Homo sapiens: one gene and its partners. The protein of the gene in region 3 purifies or fractionates together with the protein of the main gene of each other region. This does not show direct contact. Each region holds a gene or a part of one and is shown on either strand. Other genes may lie near its edges. The genes, in order: ACP3, CTSH, AIRE and SMC3.

Region 1 (7,474 bases), on a different chromosome or scaffold from region 3:
AAAAAATAAACAGAAATAAAAGTTTTAACACTTTCTTTACTTTTTAAAGTGTTAGACCATTGCATGAATCCCCTAGGTACACACACCTTAGTTGATGACATTCTTATGATACAGTCTTTGGTTTTATGGGGGATGTTTGTCTAAATACTAAACAATAAAATAGTTATTTTATGCCGAGGGCAAAAAGGCCCTCCACAAAATGATGGTTTGAGAAGAGGAGAACATTTATTCTAAAGCCATCTTATTAAATTTTGCCTCAAAGCAATTCACATTGTAACAGGGCTCTGATGCAGTCATTTGCATTTATATTGACAGTTGGTCAATCAGTATTATTGAGTACCCAATAGTTCATAAGGCCCTGAGAGTCAAATAATACAATTATGAAGGCCATAAGAAGCCAGACAGGTTAAACACAGTCTTCCTTGTGATGCTGGTGAACAGCCATATACTTACTGATGGATCTCACCTCCCAACTCAGACTCTTATGGTCAGAGGCATATTTAGTGCTTTCATAGGCTGTGATCTACTAAGGATCACAATTTTTTTCCTATAAGTGTTCATCATCATAGATTCTGTGTTACACTGCCCAAGGATTCATTGCTCCTAGCTCTTGGAAATTTGTTTGACATCACTCAGCTAGCAACCCCTTTGGGAATTATTTTGGCAGAAGAGAGTCACCTTTGCCTTATCCATGGTCATACTCCCTACCAGGGGCAGACTACGTCCAATGACTGGCTAATAAAAAAGGCCTGGCTCCTCACCTCAATTCAAGACAACCCTGAAAGGCCCTCCTATCTTCAGAACTTGTAACAGGGTCAGCTGACATCTTCAACAATATTGCATTACAAATCAACTTCTCCCTCTGCCCAACCTTGGTTATTTCTCTACCCACCACTGGAGTTAATCCTGAGTGCACTCCTTAATAAACTTCCTACATGCAAATATCTATCTGGGAGTCTGATTTTCAAAAATCCTAACCTGCTCCACTTATGGAACTTTCTAACTGTTCATTAGAACAGTTCATTTGAGGTTGAGCACTTGACATATAGAGAAAGAAGTACAACAAGAGAACACAAGTGATTCAGTCAGTAAGTCCTACTAATCATGGAAAATTATTGACACCCTAAACTCTTACATAAAGACTTCCCAGTGTTTTTTCAAATCTCACTTTTGATGTTACTATGATATGATTTGGCAGTGTCCCCACAAAAATCTCATCTTGAATTGTAACTCCCATAATCCCCACATGTCATGAAAGGTACCTGGTGGGAAGTAATTGAATCGTGGAGGAGGGCTTTTCCCATGCTATTCTTGTGACAGTGATTAAGTCTCATGAAATCTGATGGTTTTATAAAGGGCAGTTTCCCTGCACACACTCTCTTGCCTGCTGCCATGTAAGATGTGCCTTTGCTTCTCCTTCACCTTCCATCATGATTGTGAGGCCTCCCCAGCCATGTGGAACTTTGAGTCCATTAAATTTATTTTTCTTTATAAATTACCCAGTCTTAGGTATTTCTTCAAAGCAGTATGAACGTGGACTAATACATACTATATCCATATATTTATCCCAGATGACCCTTATGTCTTTGCAAAGACCTTATTGAGTTCAAAGTTCAAGGTGCCACAGAACATTCTAAAACAGGTTTCATCTGAGTTGAGGATCTTTTACACTCCATTTCATGGTGTTCAGGTTTTTCAAGACTCTACATTTATGACTTTGAATACTTCTTCTCCCCTTATAACTGAATGATCAAAGTGGAAGTGAGGATGATGATTGAGATAGAAGTATAAACCATTTAATTCAACTTGGATTAAGTTTGAGTTGAGATGTATTCAATTCAAGCAGGCTTTTTCTGGTTTTCAAAGAAAACTTTGTTGTTGTTGCCCTTCTCACTTGAAGAGCTAAAAGGACCCCACAGGCGGTACCACAGAAAAAATTAGGGTCTAGGTCAGAAAGAGGGTTTATCCAACCAGTGCAACATGGTATAGGTAGATTATAAAATCAGTCTTCATTATCAGGAAGGTCTAAGGCTATTGCTGAAATAGTTCCAAGCACCAGTCCAAGGGTGAGACAAGGAAGGAGATAGAACAAGGACCCAGGCAGATAGCTGAGAAAATAAGGCATTCAATAGAAGCAGACATCTGGCACAATTTAAGAAATGTGGTTCAGAAATTTGCCTGTGAATGGTACATAGGTGCTGGAGCTTCCTTTCTCAGATTGCCTGGTGCACACAGCAGGGATTAATGTATCAACTTCATGTATGCCCTGGACTGGAAAACCTCCCAATTTTTATTTCCTTTTTCTTGCACCCATTTCCTCAAAATCTTACTCATTAAAATTGACAGTGTAGACTGGCAGGTCGAGAATGTGATGGCAAAGAGAAAGTTGCAAGTTCCCTTGAATGGTTAATCCTAATCACACATGCATTTATTATTTGCACATTTTTTTTTTTTTTTGGAGGGGGGACAGAGTCTCACTCTATTGCCCAGGCTAGAGTGCAGTGGTGTGATCTCAGCTCACTGCAACCTCAGCCTCCCGGATTCAAGTGATTCTCCTGCCCCAGCCTCCCAGGTAGCTGGGATTACAGGCTCCCACCACCACACCTGGCTAATTTTTGTATTTTTAGTAGATATGGGGTTTCACCACATTGACCAGGCTGGTCTCGAACTCCTGATCTCAAGTGATCTGCCCACCTCAGCCTCCCAAAGTGGTGGGATTACAGGCGTGAGCCACCATGCCCAGCCTATTTGCGCATGTTTCCTACTGCCGGAAGAAGGAACAGTTCTCCCATATACCACATTCCAGGGCATCCTATGATCACATAAGAACACAATCCTCCTGCCACAGGTAAGCGCAATGTACCAGGAAACAGGTTGCGGGTAAACCATTGTTCTCCCTCTGCCATTATGATAGAAATATCATGACAGGCAGCTCTGCCCCCAAATCTTGCAAAATCTCAATGTGCACCTCAAGTTTGTATTGTTTTAGCCTATGATGGAACTGACAGGTTGGGGAAAATGGAAAGCAAAGTTCCATCAGTCTGGATCGCCTTTTGTAGTGTCCCCAGTGAGATCATAGCTGGAGAGGCAAGGATGTAACTCACTCAAAATTTAAGGCTTATGGCCAAAGTTGATGACTAATAATATAGAATTGTAGGTTTGGGCTTTTTGCTTTCTTAAAAAACTCTGTCAGGTTTGGAAAGGGACCTCCAATCTAATTTTGAGATACCACAGGTAATGTCCAATTGTCTTAAGGTGTGACTAAAATTTTTCTTTTGTTTGTTTTTTGTTGTTGTTTGTTTGTTTTGCTGTGTTTTGAGATGGAGTCTTGCTCTGTCACTCAGGCTGGAGTGCAGTGGCACAATCTCGGCTCACTGCAACCTCCACCTCCTGGGTTCAAGTGACTCTCCTGCCTCGCCTCCCAGGTAGCTGGGACTATAGGCATGTGCCACCACGCCAGGCTAATTTTTTTTTTTTGTATTTTTAGTAGAGATGGGGTTTCACCATGCTGGCCAGGCTGGTCTTAACTCCTGACCTCAAGTGATCTGCCCACCTCGGCCTCCCAAAGTGCTGGGATTACAGACATGAGCCACCACGCCCAGCCTAAAATTTTTCAAAATAAACTTGCTGTTACTTTTCTTCTTTAATTTAAAAATACCTCTATAGGCTACATGAGAGTTTTTGAAAAAGTAGCCATGTTTGGCATGGAAATAGGCCCCAAATATGTCAACACCTGTATTTCCTTCCAGATTTCAGTCCTATAACTTTGGACTCCCAACAGATTAAGAATCACTGGTCTAAGGTTTCTAAAGTCAGGGTAGATCCCTTTCCCAAGTGACAGCCACAAATCCAACGCTGTATCATACCCTATCTAAAGAAAAGATAAAAGTAAACTGGCTTGGCACAGTGGCTCATGCCTGTAATCTCAGCACTTTGGGAGGCCAAGGCAGGCGGATCATGCGGTTAGGAGTTGGAGACCAGCCTAACCAACATGGTGAAACCCCGTCTCTACTAAAAATACAAAAATTCGCCGGGTGTGGTGGTGCACGCCTGTAATCCCAGCTACTCAGGAAGACTGAAGCAGGAGAATTGCTTGAACCTGGGAGGCGGAGTTTGCAGTGAGCTGAGATTGTGCCACTGTGCTCCAGCCTGGATGACAGAGCAAGACTCTGTCTCAAAAAAAAAAAAACAAAAAACAAAGATAAAAGTAAACTGAAAACAAGGATAGAAATGTCTGCTAACATGCTCTGTGACCTTGATCAACAGCTTTCCCCGCTCTTGGCCTTGGTGTCCTAACTTAAATGGGGAAACTGTGATCTCTCTCAGCTCAAAATTTACATGACATTATTTACATACCAAACCTGCCCTACGCTTCCTGGAAACTTTACTACTTATGAGTGTGGCTCCTCCTTCCCTTTCAATCCCTTAATTAAATAGCTTCCCCTCTACAGGCTTTTGAAGTGGTAGCAGTTCCTCCTAACTCCTGCCAGAAACAGCTCTCCTCAACATGAGAGCTGCACCCCTCCTCCTGGCCAGGGCAGCAAGCCTTAGCCTTGGCTTCTTGTTTCTGCTTTTTTTCTGGCTAGACCGAAGTGTACTAGCCAAGGAGTTGAAGTTTGTGACTTTGGTAAGTAGACTTTTCTCATTGCTTTTTCCTTAAAACTGTGTTCCCAGCAAAGTCTGATAAGGCAAGCGTCAGGTTTCATCTTATCCTTGGATTGTTTCCCAGAGACCAGGCTCTGTTCAAACTCAGAAAGTGAATAATCAAGTTTTGCAAGTTCCTCTTAATGAAGACCTAACGTGTCCTAACAAAAATATTTTTTGGTCGCTGTTTTTTTAGGGGTTGCTTTTTATTTGCTTTTGCTGATGTTATTTATTTACTTACTTTACAACTGCCTTGAATTCAGATTCCTTTTGACAGCCACACCAGTCCAGAAGAAACCACAGCTGGCGCTGTTTATGTACCAAGAGCTGGCTTCATTCAATTTAATCATTATTTGTTTGCAAGCCAAAAAACAGTCATTTTCTGAATTAAGTAGTCCTTTCACCTTTGTTTATCAGGAAATTAGAACAACTATTTGTAAACAACCTTGAAGCATAAAAGTGAATCTAAATTTGGAATTTTAGGATGATTTTCTGATATATAGATTTAGTTGACGATTAAAATCATTGGCACATGTGACCAGTTATGAAAAAAGGTGGGGGGTGGCTGATGCATAATATCAAGAAAAGAAAATATACTGTTGACATTGTTTGAAAATAGATGGAAAGAGGGTTTGCAAAGTGAAGGGGATTCATCATGTTACCTAAGAGTCTGATTTTCTGTTTCTGTATCTTTTTTTCCTTCTGTTTCACTCTTTCTCTGCCTCTAAGCCTCTAAGCTGCTTCTTGCCTTTCCTCTCTCGTTTTCTTTCTCTTCCCTACATTTTTTTATTTGAGATAGTGAAAGTGGGCTGATAAGTAGGTAAATTTTCTTTCTGTCAAGAATACTCAAAAATTATTTTTATAATTTGAAGGAAAGTCACTGTTTCCTTAAAAATTAAAGTTCAGGCTTTTTTTTTTTTCAGCATGGGATATTCAAAGCTCTTTACTTTCTACAGAAAATATGATACCCATGTGCTTATTTGAATCATTATTCTTATAGTCCAGTAAATCCTTACTAGGTCATGAGTCAACAATGACAGAAAACCCAGTGAAACAAACTATCAATTTATTTACAAATGATTCACCAGCTGTCAGACTTCTGTGCAGAAAAAAAATATATAATACTGTGTGCCTTCTTTAGGGAAACCCATGTGAGCTAGGCTTGTACTTCTATCAGTAGTTTTCTTGCTAACATGTGCATGAGGCAAGTTTAGGGACTGTAGAAATTGTACTGCATCTGCCGTGCTTGTAATACTGTAAACCTGTGACAAGCTGGTTGAGTGGCAGTCCTCTGAGAAATCCAAGTTACTCCAAGCTCACTGTACATGATGTATTCCCTCCTCCATGTTTTACCCAAGTTAGCCCAGGCTAACTTCCTTTGACTACCAAATTGTTGTGGGTTTCCTATATTCAGGGACTGCAAGTTAATTCTTTCCTGAGGAAAGCCAAAATACAAAGCTAGCTCTCTTAGAACTAAAAAAATTAACAAATATTGCACAAAGCCAGTGTTAACTATTTTTTCCTACCATGATTTCCTTCCATTAATGGTAGATGAAGGGCCATTTAATACATCTTTCTTGGCCCTTATAAAACAACGTCCATCTAAGTACTTAAGCCAATAAACATCAGTTTCTTATTTTTATTGACTAAAGAGAATATTTGACTATAAGTGGTTAATTTATACAAATGAGATAACTCTTAGAAAATTATTAGGAGAACCAGAATTGTTTTAAAAGATGCCCATAACTAAAGTGGTAATATTAATGATAATAACCAATAGTCAATTGAGTGCTTACTGCAAGTACTTACTGCAATTGAGTGCTTACAAGGCACTGTTCTGAGTGTTCAATATGAATTGTATCACATAAGCCTGTCAACAATCCTCTAAAATAAGGTCGTTAAATAAAATATGGGATGACCATTTGAATTTGAACTTCAGATAAATAGCAAATAATTTTTTAGTCCCATGCAATATTTGGGCATCCTGTATGTTTATTTGCCAAATCTGGCAACCATTCTATAAAGTTTTGTAAAACTTATTATTCCTATTTTATAGATGAAGAAATTGAGGCACAAAAAGGTTAAGCATCTTGCCCATGGTCACACAGATGGAATGGTGGAGACAGAATTTGAACCCAGGCTCTCTGACCCCGGATGCCTTTCCCTTTATCACTAGACATGGTCTTTTCCTGCTGTGTGTATATAACCCAGCACATGGAGCTAGTCTGAGATCCCCCTGTAAGGTTTGCTGGATTAGCTTGACTCTGAATCAGCAGGTGGTTCCCTTGCTTTTCCTCTGTGATCCGAGAAAAATAAATCCTCCCCAATTCTGAAAAGCTGTTCTCAGCAGAAAGAGGAGGAAACTGTCCTTGGTTCTTGTTCTCGGACTAACTGAAGTGCCTGTGACCCATGAAATGCTAGTTTGACAAGTTGTTAACAGGTGTACATGGGGAAAAAATCAGTTTCAATAGTCAAGTTAGCTTTGGGAATAGAACTGGGTTAAACTGTGTTTAAAAGGTCTCTTTAATGCAGTAATCCTAAGTCTTTAACATGCTAATACGCACTGTGGCTTTCAAGGAAAGGATCTAGTGTTTTCCAAACTCTGTTTTCAAAATTTTGATTACAGCATTCACCTCCCTCTTTTTTTCCCCAATGTCCTGTAGAAAACACTGAGAGAACTGACATTTTTAACTTTATATGGAAAGAATCGTAAATATGGTGAATCTGGATGTCCTCATCAACCAGCTTCAAAGACTATCACCCATGCAATCTTGTTTCATCTGCATAGCCACTCATTTCCCACACACACCCACTTGAGTTTTTTAAGTTA
Region 2 (7,024 bases), on a different chromosome or scaffold from region 3:
ACTCGGCCTCCACTTCTCAGTGAGTTTCCTCAGGCCGGGTGAGGCCCCTCCTCAGGCTCCCACCACACACCATGTGTGCCCACCTCTGCCAAAGCCAGCACAGGACCATCTGCTACCAGACCCTAAGCTCCTTGAGGACAAGGATGCTTTAATTCTCTCTGAAATTATCCCATCCCCCAGGCCCTGGCACATCTTGTTTTGTTTAGTAAATGTTATTGAACTGCGTGGGGAGGCTGAGACTTCGGGTCCATAACCTGTATTTCATGCCCTTTGCATCCTCAACAGGATGGTTATTGCAAGTTCCAACCTGGAAAGGCCATCGGCTTTGTCAAGGATGTAGCCAACATCACAATCGTGAGTGCCGATCCCCCTCTGGGATGGGGAATGTGTCCTGATGAGGAGGCCTCTCTCATGCTGTCGGATAGCCAGTGGGCCCAGCAAGGCAGCCCTTCTGGCAGCACATCCCTTTGACGAGTTCATATTATCCCTGGGTCTCAGTCGCTGTGATGGTGGCGAGGCAGGAGATGGGAGGGAGAGCGCAAACTGGCAGGCAGGCCCTCTGGTTCTGAACTCCAGATCCACACATGCCTTCATTCTTTTGGTTCTGTTTTCTTGCTTGTAAAATGCAAGCAATTGTCCGCATCCTGCAGAAGAGGGTATGAGCACGTGCTTGACACAGCGTGTGTGAAACTGAGGAGGGTGAGTGTGTGTCACTCAGGATGAGCCAGGTTCTGTTGCAATAACAACCGTGCCCAATCTGCATGGCTGACAACAGTCAAAGGGTGTGTGGCACTCCTGCGCCCATGCACAGCTTAGGGAGGGTGGTGTGTGCTCCGTGTCATTGGCCTCACGCCAGGACTAGAGGGAAAGAAGGTGGTAAATGATGCCCTAGCTCTAAAGCCAAAACAAGCCGCCCAGTCACAGTTGACCTCAAGTGAATAGGGAAGTGTGGTCTTACCCTGCTTCTCCCAGAGAGAACTGGAACGTGAATGAACGCCTTCGTGACTGCAGTGTGCATGCATGCAAGTGTGGGAGGGTGTGTGAGGAGTGGAGGAATATCGCTTAGGTTGTGTGTGCGCCCACGAATGTATGTACAGTTCACAAACGTGATGTCTGTGTAATGACAGCGGCTGCCATTTAGTTGAAGCATGTGCCAAGCTCTCAGCAATAACATCTTAACTTGATGGAGTACTTCTAGGTGCTGTACCAACCCTCAATACGCACTATCCCCTCTAGACCCGAACTGGCCCTAGGAGATGAGTATCCTTATTACCTCATTTGACAGGTGAGGAAACGGGGGCTCCAAGTGGTTAAGTAATGTGCCCAAGGCCACAGAGCTAGGAAATAGATGCTGGATTTGAACTAAGAATGTGTCATTCCAGAACCAGGGCTCATTGCCTTGACAACATACAGCGCAAATCCTGTACTCAGGATGTCACCCTCTTCAGAATGTTGCTGCTGTCACTCAAGCTGGCTGCTCTGGGCCATGATATCCCAAGGACAGGTGAATTTGGGCCTCAAAGGTATCCCTTTGCATGGTCCCCAGGAGAGCCTCATTGGTGACACCTGCAGGGCCCTGACGACCAGGCCAGAACTAGCATTCAGCCCTCTTGGGCAGGCCCATGGGGTGGAAATGGTGCCACCTGCAGAAGTCATCGCCCCTGTGCTGGGCTGGCCTCTGTGCCCTCCATGTCTCAGATATGCCCTGACCTGTTGGGCTCACAAGGCCTTGTCCACATACCAGGAAGGAGGGCACTCCCTTGCCAGGCACCTGTTTGCTTTTCACAGCTGGGTCTCTGTCCACCCCTCTAGGGAGGCAGGACTGAGGGAGGCTGGGCGCCCCGTCCCTCCTGCACTTGCTTTCCTTCAGTAGGGCCCTGGCCTCAGCACAGGTAACTTCCCCCCTCATTTCAGCTCCCAGAGGTCTCTTGGTTAGTGCACTTGAACCCAGCCACCCCCAACCCAGAAGCTCCAAAAAGTGCCAATGCCTGGGACCCACCCTGCAGATACTGTTGTAGTTGGTCTGAGGCACAGCCTGGACTTGGGGTTTTTTTAAGGTTCTGCATGGGGTTCTACCTGCTGCTGTCACCTGGTCTCTGCAGCTCTGTTCCAAAGCTGCAGCCTCCAGGAAGCCACCCTGACTTCCCCCCACCTACCTTCCCCCTTGGAGGGGACAGGTTCTACTCAGAAGTCACACAGCCCTCGGATGGGTCTTCTCGTTTCCACCGCCATCTGGGACCTACCCGTCCATGGTTTATAACCCCTGTGTTCTAGCAGCAAAGCTTTGTAGACTCTGGGTTTATGGGTGTAGGGGTGAGAGCTGCTGGCCCAGGAGAGGACCTCAGGGAATGGATGTGAATGACTGAATGAGTAGGTCCACGCTGTACCCCGTGGTCCCTATCTCAGAGGGTGCAGGGTTTCCTAGGAGCAGAGTTGGGGAGAGGAACGAGAGATGGCCAGACAGACCCAGCCAGAGACAGGAAGGGAGAGAGGCCGCAGGGGAGCTGCTTCTGGCCATCCATGCTGCTCTGGGCCTCTAGCCCCTAGCTTGAGGCAAAAGGCTGTACTGTGAAAGGAGTGGGGAGGTGACAGGCCATGTGTTTCTGTCTCGGTCCTGTTTCCACAGTATGACGAGGAAGCGATGGTGGAGGCTGTGGCCCTCTACAACCCTGTGAGCTTTGCCTTTGAGGTGACTCAGGACTTCATGATGTATAGAACCGGCATCTACTCCAGGTGAGTCAGGGTCCCAGGAGCCAGGAGGGACAGTGGGGAGGGGCTTGGTGGGCCTCCTCACACCCCACTCGTGGGACTTGGGCTCGTGGCCCAGACTCCTGTGTGTCAGACCCTTCATGACACCTGCCAGGTGCTGGGCGTTTTGCACATCCCTCAGTTAATCCTCACACAGCCCCAAGGGCCAGGAGCCATGGCCTCTTCTCACAGCAAAGGAGAGGTGGTCAGAAGGGATACGACAGACACAGGCCACCTGGCTAGTGAGAGCTAGGGCCAAAATTTGAGAGCTTTGTGCTCCTTAACAGAAGAGTTGCCTCCAGTTTAAAAAAAACCCATGTTCAGGCCAGGCGTGGTGGCTCATGCCTGTACTCCCAGCACTTTGGGAGGCCGAGGCAGGTGGATCACTTGAGGCCAGGAGTTCAAGACCAGCCTGGCCAACATGGCGAAACCCCATCTCTACTAAAAATACAAAAAAAAAAAAAAAGCCAGCGTGGTGGTGCATGCCTATAATCCCAGCTACTCGGGAGGCTGAGACACAAGAATGGCTTGAACCTAGGAGGTGGAAGTAGCACTAAGCCAAGATCGTGCCACTGCACTCCAACCTTGGTGACAGAGCAAAGCTCTGTCTCAGAAAAAAAAAAAAATACCCATGTTTAAAGATTTGAAGACGTAAAATAGGGAGAAGAGTAGCTGCCCTCACACACTAGGATCCTGTGCTGGAGGAGTCACCCCAGGCTTCTTCAGAAAAACCAAGCTTTAGCCTCTTTACTATGGGGTTTCTCTCACCCACACCTTTTCGCCTGCCTGGTTTGCAGCCTCATTTCCCTCCCTTCATCAGTTGCTGCCCGTTAACGTCACTCACTAATGTCACTCACGTCTGTGCTCTCCTCTCCCTCCCTGAGGCTCTGCCCTGGTCACCATTGTCCTTGGACCCCCTAACCCCCCACACACTGTTCCAGCTTCCACTGGGAGCTGTCTGCCTTCTGAAACACTCCTCTTGCCAACGCCAACCTTTGAACACACCAGTGTCCCTGCTTTCCCAGGGTCCTACCCTGAGGGGGACCCTCATGATCTGGTCCTCCCTCTTTTTCCACACTCATCTGCCATCAAACCCGTCCCCGCCGTTCCACCCTGCAGCCCCCACCCCAGCCACGCAGAAGGGTTCGCAGTTCCATGGGCGTTCCCCGCCTCCACAGGGAGCCTTCCCTGACCCACCCTGCCCACCCTCCCCCCCCCCCCCGCTGGGTTGGATCCCCCCCACCTCCTGGGGGCTCTGTCGCCCTCCCACTGTCAGAGCCCTCAGGCCACTGTAGAGAAGCAGCCTCTTTGCCAACCTGCTCCCTGCCAAACAGGGCTTCCAAGGGACAGTTATGCATGCTGCCTGGATCCCGGCACCTGGCCCTGGCGCGAGCCTATGGCCCACTTACACATCAGCTGAATTCACACCTGACCACTGCAGTTTGTTCTCTTGAATTTCTTGGAATTTCCTTATGGAGGCTAGTTCACTTTTGTAAACAGAAAAAGTTGTATTTTTGCCATAGGTATAAAGTAATATTTAATAAATGCAGTGGCAACAAAGCAAAGCTGTGTTAAAGTCTGCCAGACACTGTTGCCTACAGAAGGTGCAGCAGGAAGGTGGCTCTCTCCTTGCCAGGAAAGAGGGAGTAGAAAGTGTCAGGGGTGAGACACGGGCCAGCACCATATGGAGATTCTCCTGACAGAAGCAGAAGAACCAAAAGAACTGAAAGGGCCGGGTGCGGTGGCTCACACCTGCAATCCCAGCACTTTGGGAGGCCGAGGTGGGTGGATCACCTGAGGTCAGGAGCTCGAGACCAACCTAGCCAACATGATGAAACCCTGTCTCTACCCAAAATACAAAAATTAGCTGGGTGTGGTGGTGCACGCCTGTAATCAGGCTACTCGGGAGTCTGAGGCAGGAGAATCGTTTGAACCCTGGAGGTGAAGGTTGCAGTGAGCAGAGATTGCACCATTGCACTCCAGCCTGGGCAACAGAGTGAGACTCCGTCTCAAAAGAAAAAAAGAACTGAAAGGAGTTCTCTCACGGAGACTAAATGTGATTACATCACCACCTTACATGCCTCCCTGGTCCGCTGTGGGGAACATTGCTCTAAAGCGCTCAAAGAGGCGTTGTTGGATGGGACTGTCATTGCTTTTATCCTTCCCATATGATCACCTCTTTTTGAATTTTGTTTTCCAGTACTTCCTGCCATAAAACTCCAGATAAAGTAAACCATGCAGTACTGGCTGTTGGGTATGGAGAAAAAAATGGGATCCCTTACTGGATCGTGAAAAACTCTTGGGGTCCCCAGTGGGGAATGAACGGGTAAGCAGCTCCCAGGTCCCACTTCTGGGAGGGGGATGTTGCTCAGGCCTGGAGGCCCTGGGGGCATCACTTCCACCTCAGAGTTACGGCTTCCACAGACGAGCTGGTCAGCCAAGCCCTAGGCCAGGCCAGGGGGAAAGGGAGCATGAGAATGTAGCCTCCACATTTCCAAGCCCCCATTTGCAGCCCTCACAGGGCCCCAGGTCTTTAGGACGCTGCAGGGAGAGCAGGAGGCCAGCTGGCTCAGAAGGACTGCTAGGAAAACAGCTCAGAACTTGGAACTCTGCTGGCACGAAATCAGTGTCTGGGAGGGTCCGTCTTTGAGAAATCAAAGCAACAAATGTACCCCTGATCACTGACAGCCCCTCCTTCCGGGAGAAAAGGCTGGCATGGGGCGGCCTGGGTGTATATGCTGCTGTGCCTTTGTCCTGTCCTCCCAGATTCCATGTCCTTGTCTGAAAAGGAGAGCTTTCCTGTTCCCTCGGGCTCCTGGTGATAAAATAGCTGTGTGAGGGCCCGGCCAGGGCTAAGAGGGGGCCCTCGGTAAATTTTCGGGAGAAGTGGGATATGGATCATTCATTTGGCAGCTAAGGAGAGGGAAGAATGAATTCTTCACAAAGTCAGGTCCGTGATTTGCCGGTGATCAAATAAGCCGAATGCTACTGTTTTATGAATAAATTTAGAGGGTCTCACCCCTGAAGTCAGCTCTTGGTGAGCAGCAAAACATTCTAGAAAGGCCTGTGGTGGGGAGACCGCCGGCCGGGCCTCAGCTCCTCTTTCTGCCCAGGTACTTCCTCATCGAGCGCGGAAAGAACATGTGTGGCCTGGCTGCCTGCGCCTCCTACCCCATCCCTCTGGTGTGAGCCGTGGCAGCCGCAGCGCAGACTGGCGGAGAAGGAGAGGAACGGGCAGCCTGGGCCTGGGTGGAAATCCTGCCCTGGAGGAAGTTGTGGGGAGATCCACTGGGACCCCCAACATTCTGCCCTCACCTCTGTGCCCAGCCTGGAAACCTACAGACAAGGAGGAGTTCCACCATGAGCTCACCCGTGTCTATGACGCAAAGATCACCAGCCATGTGCCTTAGTGTCCTTCTTAACAGACTCAAACCACATGGACCACGAATATTCTTTCTGTCCAGAAGGGCTACTTTCCACATATAGAGCTCCAGGGACTGTCTTTTCTGTATTCGCTGTTCAATAAACATTGAGTGAGCACCTCCCCAGATGGAGCATGCTGGTCCTGGGCCATGACTCAAACCAGGTCTGTCCTCGCCACTCAGTCTCCCAGGAGGGAGGCATCAGGGGGTGTCCAGGCTCTGGCTGGGAGGATGGTGGGGGTGCTGGCGGTATTATCCACCAGATGGGGTATCCAGGATGAAGAGCAGGCTTAATTTGAGATCTTGACTATTTGTCCCAAACCTGAGTGGAGAGGTGGGGAGGAAGGAGAAAAACGGGCCAAGCTGCGGCAGAGGCAGGATTCAAACCCACAATGTCAGCCCAGAAGCCTGTACTTCTCTGTGTGGCCTCCCCAGTCTCAGCTGCCTACTCCTACTCAGACTCTGCCCCCCACCTCCACATGAGACTGCCCACCCCTTCCTCACCAACCCCTTATTTATTTCAAACGTGCCCAGATGCTCCTGTCGTTTCCACACCATCCCTTCCCTTATCTTGCCTTTTGAGAAATCTTGATCTCTGTTTAGAGGGCGGCCATGAAGTTGCTGCTGCTTCCTGAAGCCTCCGGGCTCTGGGATGTCTGTAGAACAAGCTGGAGTCCACCAGCTCTTTGTCCTATGGCTCACAGACTTTCTTAATGATAAAAGCTGTCATCTTATTTGGGCTTCCTGAAAAGCTAAAGGCTTGAGAATATTTGAAAAATATATATGTTCATGATAAGGCTTATTTAGATAATGCAAATATAGTTTAATTTATTAGAAAATTCTAGTAACATAAG
Region 3 (6,934 bases):
CCATTAGGACCTGGCTCCTCCCAACTTCTATACACATCACATGGGCCGCGTCCCCCCACTTTGCAGGCTGAGAACATCTGACGTGACCTGGGCACCTGAGGGGCACCCGGCACAGCAGGAGCATGGACCTGGAGAACCTCTGTTCTTCCGTGCATCAAGGTCCGAGTCGTGGTTCTGCCCCTTAGCAGCTGCGTGACTCTGGCCAAGCTCCTCCCGGCAACAGGCCTCAGTTTCCATATCTGTGGATGGCACTAATCACGATGATGACCTGAGGAGACCGTTCTGCTGATGGAGTGAGCAGAATCACAAAGCTCTCAGGGCCTAGCCCGGGGCATGGCAGGTCCGCAGGCGTCCAAGGGCACAGCACAGATGTGGGAGAAAGGGCTGCGGGGCCCTCCCGCTCCAGCCGAGGACACGGGGCTCAGGGATGGAGCCCAATACTGTCCCAGAGCTCTGCTGCCCAGGTGCCTCTTGGGGAAACTGAGGCTCAGTCCCACAAAGGCATCAGTCCCACTGAAGACAGGGCCGAGTCCCCAGCCCCTCACCCCCCTCCAGGGGTCTGTGCCACCTCCAGGGAGCCGTGGCGGCTCCATGTCACCTGCGGGCAAGGGGCTGGTGTGGAAAGCCCCACGGCATGGTGGAAAGTCCGAAATTCTACAGGGGCCTCTTTGTTAAACCTCCATGCAAGAGGCTGGGTGACGCCTGCCCACAGGGGTCAGGCCCCAGCCCAATGACACAGGTGACCCGCAAAGACTGCAGGTCTTTTTTAAAAAGTGAAGTGCAGACTTGGATCTCGCTTTGCAGTTTTTAATTCCCCTTTAACCATCTCTGGGCTAAGGCATCCATTGACTCACTTAACCATCTGGGGAGGGAAAAGCCACCGGGTTGCAGGGGGTGACTTTGGGGCAGGATGGCCTCTGAAGGGGTGGGTTGCCCCTCCACACCTGTGGGTGTTTCTCGTTAGGTAGAACGAGAGACTTGGAAAAGAGACACAGACAAAGTATAGAGAAAGAAATTGGGGGACCAGGGGACCGGCGCTCAGCATACGGAGGACCCCCGCTGGCCTCTGAGTTCCCTTAGTATTTATTGATCATTTTTGGGTGTTTCTCGGAGAGGGGGATGTGGCAGGATCATAGGATAATAGTGGAGAGAAGGTCAGCAGGTAAGCACGTGAACAAAGGTCTCTGCATCATAAACAAGGTAAAGAATTAAGTGCTGTGCTTTAGATATGTATACACATAAACATCTCAATGCCTTAAGGAGCAGTATTGCTGCCTGCTTGTCCCACCTCCAGCCCTAAGGCAGTTTCCCCCTATCTCAGTAGATGGAATATACAATCGGGTTTTATACCGAGACATTCCATTGCCCAGGGACGGGCAGGAGACAGATGCCTTCCTCTTGTCTCAACTGCAACGAGGCGTTCCTTCCACTTTTACTAATCCTCCTCAGCACAGACCCTTTACGGTGTCGGGCTGGGGGACGGTCAGGTCTTTCCCTTCCCAGGAGGCCATATCTCAGGCTATCACATGGGGAGAAACCTTGGACAATACCTGGCTTTCCTAGGCAGGGGTCCCTGCGGCCTTCCGCAGTGTTTTGTGTCCCTGGGTACTTAAGATTAGGGAGTGGTGATGACTCTTAACGAGCATGCTGCCTTCAAGCATTTGTTTAATAAAGCACACCCTGCACAGCCCTTAATCCATTTAACCCTGAGTTGACACAGCACATGTCTCAGGGAGCACAGGGTTGGGGGTAGGGTTACAGATTAAAATGGAGTCTCTTATGTCTACTTTCTATGCAGACACATTAACAATCTGATCTCTCTTTCTTTTCCCCACAGCCTCAAAGGAGAGGAAAGCCAAGTTGCTGGGAGCAACGGTTACTGGTCATCCCAAAGCTGTGTGCGCTGGTTCCCTGGCACCCCAGGGGCTTTTATGCATGAACTGTGCAGCCAGTGGGCCCAAGGGTTGCCATTGAACTTGATGTTAGTGAGCTCTCCCTTCGTGAGACCCCTGCCCATGGATGAGCAAGGAGAATGGGGGTGTTTCAGGAGCAGACAGGGATCCTGTGCAAAGCTGGGCTTCTGTGCAACTTTCGCTTGCAGTTATTTAAATATTTTTGCTGTAAATACAGAACTGCAGGGGAGAGGGCAGGAAACCCAGCGAGCAGCAGCCCGGCCTGGCTGGGGACAGGATGTGTCTGTTGGAGCGGGGACCGGCAAGGCAGGCATGCAGGCAGGGGGCTTCCCTCTCGGGGTCTTCGGAAGGCGCAGTGCAGGGAGTGAGAGACGCCCAGGCCTGGGCAGCGAGAGGGCCCTGCTCCCCGCTCAAGGCTCCCAGGACATTCCACACAGGAGCCAGCCTGTTCCAACCCTGCACTGCCTGATACTCCACAGCCACCACTGAGATGGACCCCCTCCCCCTCAGCTCCCCATGACGTCCCCAGCACCTGACCCCAGGCTGACCACCTCGGCCACCACCTCTGGCCCCACCTTCCTCCCCAGGTTTGTTCCCAAACACCCCTAGAGTCTTTTCCGGAGCAATCTCAGACGTGCAGAACGCTCAGGGGGACCCTGGGCCTGAAGGCGGTAGGAGAAACCGAGACCGACCCCTGGTCTAGAGGAGAGGTGTCTGCCGCTCTCCATCCTGGACTCTGGCTGCCCAAAAGCAAACGGCACGCCTGCCCACGTGGGAATCTTGGTGGCGTCTCTCACTGCATCAGTTAGCCCCCAGCCCAGTGCTGCCTGGATTCAGGCTTCCTGGTACCTTCGTCCACCCTTCAGCCCTAATCCATGCTGGCCAGGTCATCTCGTTCTCTGGCTCAGTGGGAACACTCGTGCCCAGAGACCTCTCGTGGTTCTCTGCAGCCTGCACACAGGGCCTGCTTCCCTGGCTTGACCGCACAGACAAGGGGACTGTTACCAAGGCCTCCCACTGAGGCCACCCCCCCTCCAGGCCATGCCTGCGGGGCCACCACAGCCTCAGCATCATTGCAGGCCCCAGGCCTCTGCACCTGGTCTTGTTTTACTGGGGGCACTGTCCCCACTCACGTCCACCTGGGACCCTCGGCTCCTGTCCACTGCAGCTCCCCTCCCGGACACCTTCCCAGATGCCCCCGGAAGCTCCTGTCCAGGCCACAGCATCCCTCAGCCTCTGTCACTGGTCCTAGGAAGACCCTTTGGGAGCTCTCACTCAGGGCCACACTCAGGACCCCCGTTGTGGGGCTGGCCGCCTTCCTTCTAAAGCACCTGGAGGAAGGAAGGAGGGGGTCAATGCGAGCCTCAATCCCCAGGCGAGTGTGCCCCTTTTAAAGATGAGGGAACCGAGGCTCAGAGAAGGAAAGGACTTGCCTGGCGTCACACAGCTAGCCTAAGATGGTGAGGTCAGGAGCTCCCTGGCAACACCCAGGCTGCCGTACCGTCTCCTGCATCAGACTGAGCCTCCATCGGGCTCCTCCCACAGCCCCAGGCGGGCCCCTGAGTAGGGGCTCTCAGCTTGTGTGGAGGTCCCCCAGGAACACCACCCCGATCCAGCCTCCATGGAGGCTCTTGCCGGCCACTGGGAGGGGCCGGTGCACCCTGGGCAGCCCCTGCCAGGGCCCTGAGACCCGAGCCTCCCCGCCGAGGGCACCTGTCTCGGCTTTGCCCCATTCGAGCAGGGCCCTCGCCGAGGCAGGACAGGGCCACATTCGGAAGTGAGAGTTCTCTGAGTCCCGCACAGAGCGAGTCTCTGTCCCCAGCCCCCAAGGCAGCTGCCCTGGTGGGTGAGTCAGGCCAGGCCCGGAGACTTCCCGAGAGCGAGGGAGGGACAGCAGCGCCTCCATCACAGGGAAGTGTCCCTGCGGGAGGCCCTGGCCCTGATTGGGCGCCGGGGCGGAGCGGCCTTTGCTCTTTGCGTGGTCGCGGGGGTATAACAGCGGCGCGCGTGGCTCGCAGACCGGGGAGACGGGCGGGCGCACAGCCGGCGCGGAGGCCCCACAGCCCCGCCGGGACCCGAGGCCAAGCGAGGGGCTGCCAGTGTCCCGGGACCCACCGCGTCCGCCCCAGCCCCGGGTCCCCGCGCCCACCCCATGGCGACGGACGCGGCGCTACGCCGGCTTCTGAGGCTGCACCGCACGGAGATCGCGGTGGCCGTGGACAGCGCCTTCCCACTGCTGCACGCGCTGGCTGACCACGACGTGGTCCCCGAGGACAAGTTTCAGGTGGGCTCCCCGCCCGCCCCCCGCTGCCCCCAGGCCCTGTGAGCCAGGGATAGTCCCCGGGGAAGTTCCAGGAGGACCCCGCCCCTCCAGATCCCCAAGCCCCTCCAGCCTTCCCCAACTCCCTCCCCACAAGGAGCCAGGGGCGTCCCTGATGACAAGTTAGAAGTTGGTCCCCTTCCCCCAGCCGTCCCCACACCTCACCCCCAAGCCAAGGGAATGGCCTCCAGGTTCCCCCAGCCCCACCCTCAACACCCCTACACCACCACCTGACTCCACCACAAGCCGAGGAGATGGGCGTGGAGCTGTCCAGGTCGCCAGCGCCTCTGCCTGGGAGCTCCACCCTCTAGTCATGATGGAGATGGGCAGGCCGCAGGGTGTGGGGGACCATGGCAGGGACCCTCATGCCACCCCACTGCAGGAGACGCTTCATCTGAAGGAAAAGGAGGGCTGCCCCCAGGCCTTCCACGCCCTCCTGTCCTGGCTGCTGACCCAGGACTCCACAGCCATCCTGGACTTCTGGAGGGTGCTGTTCAAGGACTACAACCTGGAGCGCTATGGCCGGCTGCAGCCCATCCTGGACAGCTTCCCCAAAGGTGGGTCCTGGTGGACTCAGCCATGCTGGGGGCCTGGGGCAGCTGCTGTCACCTGCTCAGCCCAGCTGGACTGGAACCGGAGTGGTGTTTGAGGAGCCCGTGGGTGATGTTCCAGGACCGTCTTGGATCCTAAGAGGCAAAGGGGCCAGGCCTCACCTGTCTGGCCAAGGTGTCCAGTTCTGGGGCCCACCCTACCCCTGGAGAAAACCCTGAGGTTGGGACCCTGCTCCTGCCCCTGAGCTGCAGATGTGGACCTCAGCCAGCCCCGGAAGGGGAGGAAGCCCCCGGCCGTCCCCAAGGCTTTGGTACCGCCACCCAGACTCCCCACCAAGAGGAAGGCCTCAGAAGAGGCTCGAGCTGCCGCGCCAGCAGCCCTGACTCCAAGGGGCACCGCCAGCCCAGGTACCCTCCCTGCAGGGGAAGCCAGCCAGGGTCTCCAGTCTTCCCGGGCTTCCCCGGGAGCCCACGCCCCCTCCCCACCCGGGCTCCCACCCACTGGGTGTGGGGCCAGCCTGCCTGGGGCTGTGGGGGTCTCCTCTGGGTACTAGACCCACACACTGGACCAGCCTCTCAGCTCCCTCCTGCCTGAAGGCTGAGCTCCCCGGAGCTGGTGAAGTAGGCGGGCGGGTCTCATTTCCCTTTTACTGATGAGAAACCAGAGCCCGGCAAAGGGACTACCCAGCACTGGACCGCCCCCTCCACGCCCTCCCACCGCGGGCCCCTGCCCACCGGCACTCACCCCCACTGAGAGGGGAGGCCAGGCTGCCCCCAGCTCCCCCATTCAGGCTCTCAACTGAAGGCCAAGCCCCCCAAGAAGCCGGAGAGCAGCGCAGAGCAGCAGCGCCTTCCACTCGGGAACGGTGAGCGGGGCCCAGTGGGAGCGCCTCCCTTCTCCCTGGCCAGGGGCAAGGGGTCAGGGGTCAGAGCAGGGCCTGCCCTCTGAGACCCTGTCCTAGGGGCTGGGGACGTGCTGGCCTGGTGTGTCATTCCAAGGGCCTAAGCTGCACCACCAGACCCAGGAAGGGGACACCTTGGGTCTAAGCATGATCTTGCCAGTCGCCCCTGCCCCCACTGCACCCTGGTTCTGGGACCCCCTTCTCAGGCACCTTCTCTGCCCGTCCACTCCCTATCCTTCAGGACCAGCCTAGACATAGCTTCCTCCAGAAAATCATCCCTGGCCCCCAGCTGCATGCAGGCTGAACCCTTCCTGTCCCCTTCTCCTTCCTTCCCAGGGCACTGGACTCCAGAGACCCCCTATCTCCCTGAGGGCAGAGCCTAGGAACTCTGTGTCCCTCCCGGCACAATACAGGGCCCATGTCATGGGGGGGTGGGTCTGGTCATTGGTCATGCCTTCCTATCCATTGTGCCAGCTCTGCTGACACTGCCACCCCCCAGCACACGCACACTTGGGTGCACACACGAACACACACATTCTCATGTCTCTGCACTTACCTGTGGGCTGTCTGCACATGGCAGGGCTGGGTCCCCTCCTTGGCCTGCCCTGGCTGGAAGGAAAGGGCTCTGCAGCCCAGTGCTGCCTGCTTCTGGCATAGAGTATGTGCTTGGGAACAGTCTTCCCCACGGGTGACCCCAATGGGTGTTCCCTTTCCCAGGGATTCAGACCATGTCAGCTTCAGTCCAGAGAGCTGTGGCCATGTCCTCCGGGGACGTCCCGGGAGCCCGAGGGGCCGTGGAGGGGATCCTCATCCAGCAGGTGTTTGAGTCAGGTAGACGCTGTGGCGGGGAGATGGGGCTGATGGGGAGACCCAGGCTCCAAGATGGAAGGAGGACCACGCCCCTTTGCATCCTGGTGGTCCCACAGCAGACCGGACTGTTGCTCAGGTAGCCAGAGTTTCTGCCTGTGGTTCTGCTGACTTTGGAGGAGGAGGGTGAGCACTGAAGTCTCCCTGTCGGGGGACCTTCTGCAAGGCCAGCGGTCCAGGCCCACATCCCCACCCGGGATGTACAGCACTCCCCAGTCACCTCCATCCATGTGCATGGGCCCTCCTGGGCCATGGGGTTGCATCCTTAGAAAGTTCTGCCTGTGCTGCTGAGACCCTCCAGGGTATCGGCATTCTTCAACCAGGACAGCCTGTAGCATAGCGTCCTTGCCCCCCATACCCTGGCCAGCCTGCAGCATCCTC
Region 4 (7,024 bases), on a different chromosome or scaffold from region 3:
GTGGTACAAACACAACTCACTGCAGCCTCCACCTTCCAGGCTCAGCGATCCTCCATCCTTAGCCTCCTAACTGGGACCACAGGCATGTATCACCAGGCCCAGCAAAATTTTTATTTATTTTTTTGTAGAGACGAGGTCTTGCCATGTAGCCTAGGCTGGTCTCGAAATCTTGGGCTTAAGCAATCCTCCGACCTTGGCCTCCCAAAGTGGTGGGATTAGAGGCATGAGCCACTGTGCCCAGCTTAAAATATGTTTTTATGAATTGGTAGCATGTGTCTTACATACCCTTAATTTAACAAGATGTCACAACATATGTCTAAAATAGCTTGTTGGTAACTTTTTTTTTTTGAGATGGAGTTTGGCTCTTGTTGCCCAGGCTAGAGTGCAATGGCGCAATTTCGGCTCACTGCAACCTCAGCCTCCTGAGTAGCTGGGATTACAGGCATGCACCACCAAGCCCAGCTAATTTTGTATTTTTAGTAGAGATGGGGTTTCTCCATGTTGGTCAGGCTGCTCTCAAACTCCCAACCTCAGGTGATCTGCCTGCCTCAGCCTCCCAAAGTGCTGGGGTTACAGGCGTGAGCCACCGTGCCCAGCTGATAGTAACAATTTTTTTTTTTTTTTTTTAATACGAGTCTCACTGTGTCACCCAGTCTGGAGTGCAGTGGCATGATCTCAGCTCACTGCAACCTCCACCTCCTGAGTTCAAGCAATTCTCTGCCTCAGCCTCCCGAGTGGCTGGGATTACAGGTGCCTGCCACCACGCCCGGCTAATTTTTTTGTATTTTTAGTAGAGGTGGGGTTTCACCATCTTGGCCAGGCTGGTCTTGAACTCCTGACCTCGAGATCCACCCACCTCAGCCTTCCTAAGTGCTGGGATTGCAGGCGTGAGCCACCATGCCCGGTGTAATTTTTTTTTTTTAAAACTTCATTTTTTGGTATTCCAGCATCTTATGTTACATTTAGTTGTCATGTTTCTTTTATCTGCTTTAATCTGGACCAGTTCTTCAGTTTTTTCTTGACTTTTGGGACTTGACATTTTAAATTATTTGTTATAAAGTACATATATTAATATTTATGTACTTATTAATTGTATATTATATATAATTATTTGTCCCTAATCTCTTTTTTTTGGAGATGGAGTGTTGCTCTGTCGCCCAGGCTGGAGTGCAGTGGCGCGATCTCGGCTCACTGCACCCTCCGCTTCCCGGGTTCAAGCAATTCTCCTGCGTCAGCCTCCCAAGTAGCTGGGACCACAGGCACATGCCACCACGCCTGGCTAATTTTTTGTATTTTTAGTAGAATGGCGTTTCACTGTGTTAGCCAGGATGGTCTTGATCTCTTGACCTTGTGACCTGCCTGCCTCGGCCTCCCAAAGTGCTGGGATTATAGGTGTGAGCCACCATGCCTGGCCCCTAATCTGTTATAGTGATTTGCCCACTTTAAGTTTTTGGTGACTCACCTTTAAATGTATCCAAAACCTCAGTGAAGTTTTAAAGAAAGAGCTGTTTACTTTGTACTCATATTCTCACTTTACATAAAGAAAAAAATATATAGTGGGGAGAAAACACAACAGCCTCTGTAGGCATAAACAATAGGTAGGTAAAATTGCGAGGAGTGTAGCCTGCTGTTTTTGGAAGTCCAGTCGTGCTGTGGGTTTTAGTTGTGATACTTTGTGGAAGGAGTGGAAAAGTTGGGTTAATCCAGGCAGTTCTTTATATGGTTAGTATAGTCTGAACTGATAGTTAACACCTCCTTTCTTGAAATAAAATGAGTTTTCTCTTGAGTTTATGAAACCAACCTCAGCAGATGCCCTTTTTGAAGGTGCCTCCAGTGAGAGAATTTATTCATTTTTTGTCATGCTTGAAGTTCATTATTTTCCAGTATTCCAGCCACACTTTTGGTTATCAGAATGACCACTTGTAAAGATGAAGCCTTTCCTTTGGACAGAGATGATTTTATGGCGCTGATTTTGTTATGTAAATAGCCTTTTTTTTGAGACAGCCCCACTCTGTTGCCAGGCTGGAGTGCAATGGTGCGATCTTGGCTCACTGCAACTTCTGCCTCCTGGGTTCAAGCGATTCTCCTACCTCAGCCTCCCATGTAGCTGAGATTACAGGCGCCCGCCACTGCTCCCGGCTAATTTTTGTATTTTAGTAGAGACAGGGTTTCACCATGTTGGTCAGGCTGTTCTCGAACTCCTGACCTCAGGTGATCCGCCCACCTGAGCCTCCCAAAGTGCTGGGATTACAGGCGTGAGCCACCGCGCCCGGTGTAAATAGGCTTTTGCCTCTTGGTATAATCCTAAATTAATTTTTCCACAGTGTATTTTTAAAACCTGCAGTATGAAAAATAAAATGTCTTTTTGGTGGTTTTATTATGCTTTATTACAGTTCATTTATGTGATACATATCCTACATACTTATCAAACTTAAGTTTTTAGACTTTTCTAACTTATGTCAGTGGTATCTTGGCCGTAGCAACTGCTGTGGAGAAGGGGAAGCTCTTAGATAGTTTCAGTGCAAACTAAATGTTTTCTCTTTTCCAGGTTGTAATGCATTTAATAAAGTCTACAAAACATTATATTTTGAATTTAATATAGGTAGCTTACTTTATTACTGGTTCTGAGTAGCATCATGGTGTCAGAAAGGGAACCATTAGTGTTCAGATACACCTGGAAAAAAACAAAGTATGTAGGACTTAAGAAATACTGTAAGCTGCCAGGCGCAGTGGCTTACGCCTGTAATCCCAGCACTTTGGGAGGCCGAGGTGGACGGATCACGAGGTCAGGAGATCGAGACCATCCATCCTGGCTAACACGGTGAAACCACATCTCTACTAAAAAATATAAAAAATTAGCTGGGCGTGGTGGCGGGCGCCTGTAGTGCCAGCTACTCGGGGGGCTGAGGCAGGAGAATGGCGTGAACCTGGGAGGCAGAGCTTGCAGTGAGCCAAGATTGCACCACTGCACTCCAGCCTGGACGACAGAGCGAGACTCCGTCTCAAAGAAAAAAAAAAAAAAAAAGAAATATTGTAAGCTGTAATGCTAGTTAATAACACAACAGTCTGAATTGTTTAGGACTGTAAAAGTTGAAACATTAATTTAGGAAAACTGACTCTTCAAGGTTTATACTCTTCTTTTAGCATGTGTTCAGATAGCCTGGGGATGAATTAAGTAATTGCTGCAGAAAAGTTAAATTTTACCTAGGGAATTTGTTAACTCTTTTATGGTTTCAGATACCACTGAGTCCCAAATTCCTTATGTGTAGAATTAAAGGGTTTAATTATCCAAGATGTTAAAAGTCATTCTGATTATCCAAGATTTTTTGAGACAGAGTCTCGCTGTGTCACCAGGTTGGAGTGCAGTGACACAATCTCAGCTCACTGCAACCTCCCCATCCTGGGTTCAAGTGATTCTCCTGCCTCAGCCTCCCCCAGTAGCTGGGACTACAGGCGTGTGCCATCACGCCTGGCTAATTTTTGTATTTTCAGTAGAGACGGGGTTTCACGATGTTGCCCAGGATGGTCTCCATCTCTTGACTTCATGAGCTGCCCACCTCGGCCTCCCAAAGTGCTGGGATTACAGGTGTGAGCCACCGCGCCCGGCCAATCTAAGATTTTGTGACTCAGTAGTAACATTGACTTTTTGTCAGTGGAATTAGTAGTAACATTGACTTTTGTCCATTAAAATTTTGGACAAAAAGTCAGTGTTACTACTGAGGATGAATAATTGTCAGTACTCTGTGGGAATATTTACAATTACTTTGATATCTGACAATAATTAGTTATAATACAAACAGATGAATGTAATTACTTTATGAAGCAGTTTGAAGCCCTTCCCCTGAAGGATGATCTTCAGCTTTATTTTGCTTGTCTTATTGCTTCCCAGTAAGGCAAGGATTTTTGTTTGCTTTGGTCTTTTATGATTCCCCAGCTCTTCTAAGAATGCCTGGTACATACTGGGGTTTTGGTAACTTCACTAAGTGGATGAAGTGTCAGCTTCCTTAAACTCTAGCCAGTGAGGCTATTGGATTTTTTCAGCTCAGTATAGTCTACTAAATTAATGAATACAGTTCATTAATTCTCCTTAAGGAAACAGCATCTTACGTTAGGTTCTTAGAGATTTGTTATAGGTTCTGCCAAGATTTTTAACTCATTTTTCTTGAATGTAAAATAGTTGAAAATAGTTTTTGTGTTCTGTTGTGTGTGTGTGTAGAGGGGGCAGTATGAAAGTATATAATGGACTATTATGAGAACTTAGAATTTTTTTTCTAAAATTCTGGAGTGTATATTATAGAAATAGGAAGATTTAGATCACTAATGAACAAATTAACTTTTAGCAACATGTTTTATAGTATTTAATGGTTTGTGTTTTCTGGTGTGGTATGCTCTTTTGCCTAAAGACAACTTTTAAAAACTGAAATGGGGCCGGGCGCAGTGTCTCACGCCTGTAATCTCAGCACTTTGGGAGGCCGAGACGGGCGGATCATGAGGTCAGGAGATCGAGACCATCCTGGCTAACACGGTGAAACTCCGTCTCTACTAAAAATACAAAAAACAAAAAAAACAAACTGAAATTGGATTTTTCAACAGCATCATTGAGGTATAATTCACATACAGTAAATTGTACATATTTAGTGTACATCATTTTTCCTAGTCAGGAAAGTGGCAAAAATAAAGTATATAATTTGATGAGTTTTGACATACGTATACATCTGTAAAACACCACACAGTTAAGACACCACACACCACAGTTAAGACAATAAACACGTTTATTACCCAAAAGCGTTTTCCATACCCCTTTGTAATTCCTCCCTCACCTTTTGTCCGCCTCCCCCATCCATCTGCAACCACTGATCTGCTTTCTATCAGTGTAGATTAGTTTCATGAAATTGAATTTTAAATTTATTTTTATTTCCATAGAAACTGGACCAGGATCTTAATGAAGTCAAAGCTCGAGTAGAAGAACTGGACAGAAAATATTACGAAGTAAAAAATAAGAAAGATGAACTACAAAGTGAAAGAAAGTTAGTATAGACTAAAATGTGCATTAATGTTTTCAGTAATGTTCGTTACTAGCTGTTATGTGGTCTTTAAGTTACAAGTTAACCGGTCAGGCTTGTTTTCTGTATTTTGATTCTAAACTGTATACTGTTAATGCATCCTCATATGTGTTTAAAATTAAAGACAGTCTACTTTTTATTTATTAGCTACTTGTGGAGAGAAGAGAATGCAGAACAGCAAGCACTTGCTGCTAAAAGAGAAGATCTTGAAAAGAAGCAACAACTTCTTAGAGCAGCAACAGGAAAGGTGGGCAGGTTCTTTTCATCACCTCTGTTTACACTGAGTCATTGAGTTAATCGTTATGTAATAATTTTTTACCTTTCAAGGTGTAGGTCATGGGTTCCAAGTGATAAATAGGAGTCCAAATTATCTTCTAAATATGAAATGATAGAGATTAAATAGTTTTATTACTACACATACTATTAATAGCACTTTTGATGTTCAGATAAAGAGCCCATTTTTAACACTACTGTTATGGAACAGAGCCTATCATATAAGGTGTTACATGTAGTTGGCATATTGTGAGGAGGTGATGTGTTTGTTGGAGAGGATGTTTAGTTTAATCACTGGTATATTTTTAAAATGTATGGTGTTGTGGGCTCATTCCTTACCAGGAGTGCCATTGATGATATTATTTTAATATTTTTCATTTCTGACAACTTACAGGCCATTTTAAATGGAATAGACAGCATAAACAAAGTGCTAGACCACTTCCGTCGAAAAGGAATAAACCAGCATGTTCAAAATGGCTATCATGGTATTGTAATGAATAACTTTGAATGTGAACCAGCTTTCTACACATGCGTGGAAGTCACTGCTGGAAACAGGTTAAAGCTTTTGCTTGATATTTAGCATTTTTAGAAGAGGGAATAAGAATAGCTTAAACAACTTTTGTAGTTTTTGTACAACATATCTTCCATTATCTTTTTATATCTCGGTTCCTTAACTTTCTAATTAAAGAAGTAGATGCTAAGTATTTGTTCCTAATTATAGAAGCTAGAACTTTCCTCTTTTGGGAGTTTCTCCCTCCCCGCCATTGGAATTTTTAAAGTAGTCTTATTTTCCAAAATTATTTGGATTATATAGGAAAAAACTGTTTGATGCTTAAGTGTTTATAACATTTTAAAAGTGCACACCTTTAGTCCCAGCTATGCAGGAGGCTGAGGTGGGAGGATTGATAAGTTTGGGCAACATAGGGAGACCCTGAGTACCAATAAAGATTTGTCTTACTCTGTTTATATTTAGGTTATTTTATCACATTGTTGATTCAGATGAAGTCAGCACGAAGATTTTAATGGAGTTTAATAAAATGAATCTTCCTGGAGAGGTTACTTTTCTGCCTCTTAACAAGTTAGATGTCAGGGATACAGCCTATCCTGAAACCAATGTGAGTCATTGTGTGATAAGGTGTATTTCTCTTTTATAATGTTATTTTTTATCACATAATCTAACACATGCTAGTGCCCAGGCACTATACACTGGGATTCAGTGGTGTATGAGATAAAAATATCTGTCTTCCCATGGACCTTAGTGCTGAGTGGGTTTTGGGGAGGGAGACAGAAGTCACAGCTATGATTGGTGTGGTGATGCACGCCTGTAATCCCAGCTACTTGGGAGGCTGAAGTGGGAGGATCATTTAAAAAGAAGAGAAAAAAGCTAAGATATGAAACAAATCATTGCAAATGTGCAGTGTTAAAAGCGTAAGTACAGGATACTTTGAGAGCATATCTGGGAGTGACATAATTAAGGTTAGGGAGTTGGAGAAAGATTCCCAAGGAACTGTCATGTATAGTTTAAAAGTGTCTTGACGTACTTAGGATTAAATGAAAAAAATGGCTAGTAAGGTGATAGACTTCGGAAGCATAACATTGCTTTTGTTGGTAACAAAAGTGCACTTTAGGTGGATTAAAAATATTCTTCAGACACCATTCTTAGAACAGTGTAATTGCTTTGAGGTACT

Evidence for each region.
Region 1: the proteins of AIRE (region 3) and ACP3 purify together in Homo sapiens (affinity purification with mass spectrometry; 2 studies listed by BioGRID and IntAct, with this or other methods). This does not show direct contact.
Region 2: the proteins of AIRE (region 3) and CTSH purify together in Homo sapiens (affinity purification with mass spectrometry; 2 studies listed by BioGRID and IntAct, with this or other methods). This does not show direct contact.
Region 4: the proteins of AIRE (region 3) and SMC3 purify together in Homo sapiens (affinity purification with mass spectrometry, with the first as the bait; 2 studies listed by BioGRID). This does not show direct contact.

The regions. Positions count from the first base shown.
Region 1 is NC_000003.12:132,312,950-132,320,423, forward strand, and holds the start of ACP3 (prostatic acid phosphatase isoform PAP precursor), read left to right. Parts: upstream 1-4,457; 5' UTR 4,458-4,507; coding exon 4,508-4,627; intron 4,628-7,474. UniProt on the Homo sapiens protein: A non-specific tyrosine phosphatase that dephosphorylates a diverse number of substrates under acidic conditions (pH 4-6) including alkyl, aryl, and acyl orthophosphate monoesters and phosphorylated proteins.
Region 2 is NC_000015.10:78,921,043-78,928,066, reverse strand, and holds the end of CTSH (pro-cathepsin H isoform a preproprotein), read left to right. Parts: intron 1-285; coding exon 286-354; intron 355-2,626; coding exon 2,627-2,733; intron 2,734-4,948; coding exon 4,949-5,074; intron 5,075-5,861; coding exon 5,862-5,937; 3' UTR 5,938-7,009; downstream 7,010-7,024. UniProt on the Homo sapiens protein: Important for the overall degradation of proteins in lysosomes.
Region 3 is NC_000021.9:44,281,942-44,288,875, forward strand, and holds the start of AIRE (autoimmune regulator), read left to right. Parts: upstream 1-3,934; 5' UTR 3,935-4,065; coding exon 4,066-4,197; intron 4,198-4,615; coding exon 4,616-4,790; intron 4,791-5,036; coding exon 5,037-5,192; intron 5,193-5,575; coding exon 5,576-5,650; intron 5,651-6,403; coding exon 6,404-6,517; intron 6,518-6,934. UniProt on the Homo sapiens protein: Transcription factor playing an essential role to promote self-tolerance in the thymus by regulating the expression of a wide array of self-antigens that have the commonality of being tissue-restricted in their expression pattern in the periphery, called tissue restricted antigens (TRA).
Region 4 is NC_000010.11:110,584,682-110,591,705, forward strand, and holds part of SMC3 (structural maintenance of chromosomes protein 3), read left to right. Parts: intron 1-4,923; coding exon 4,924-5,027; intron 5,028-5,210; coding exon 5,211-5,310; intron 5,311-5,730; coding exon 5,731-5,891; intron 5,892-6,309; coding exon 6,310-6,451; intron 6,452-7,024. UniProt on the Homo sapiens protein: Central component of cohesin, a complex required for chromosome cohesion during the cell cycle. The cohesin complex may form a large proteinaceous ring within which sister chromatids can be trapped.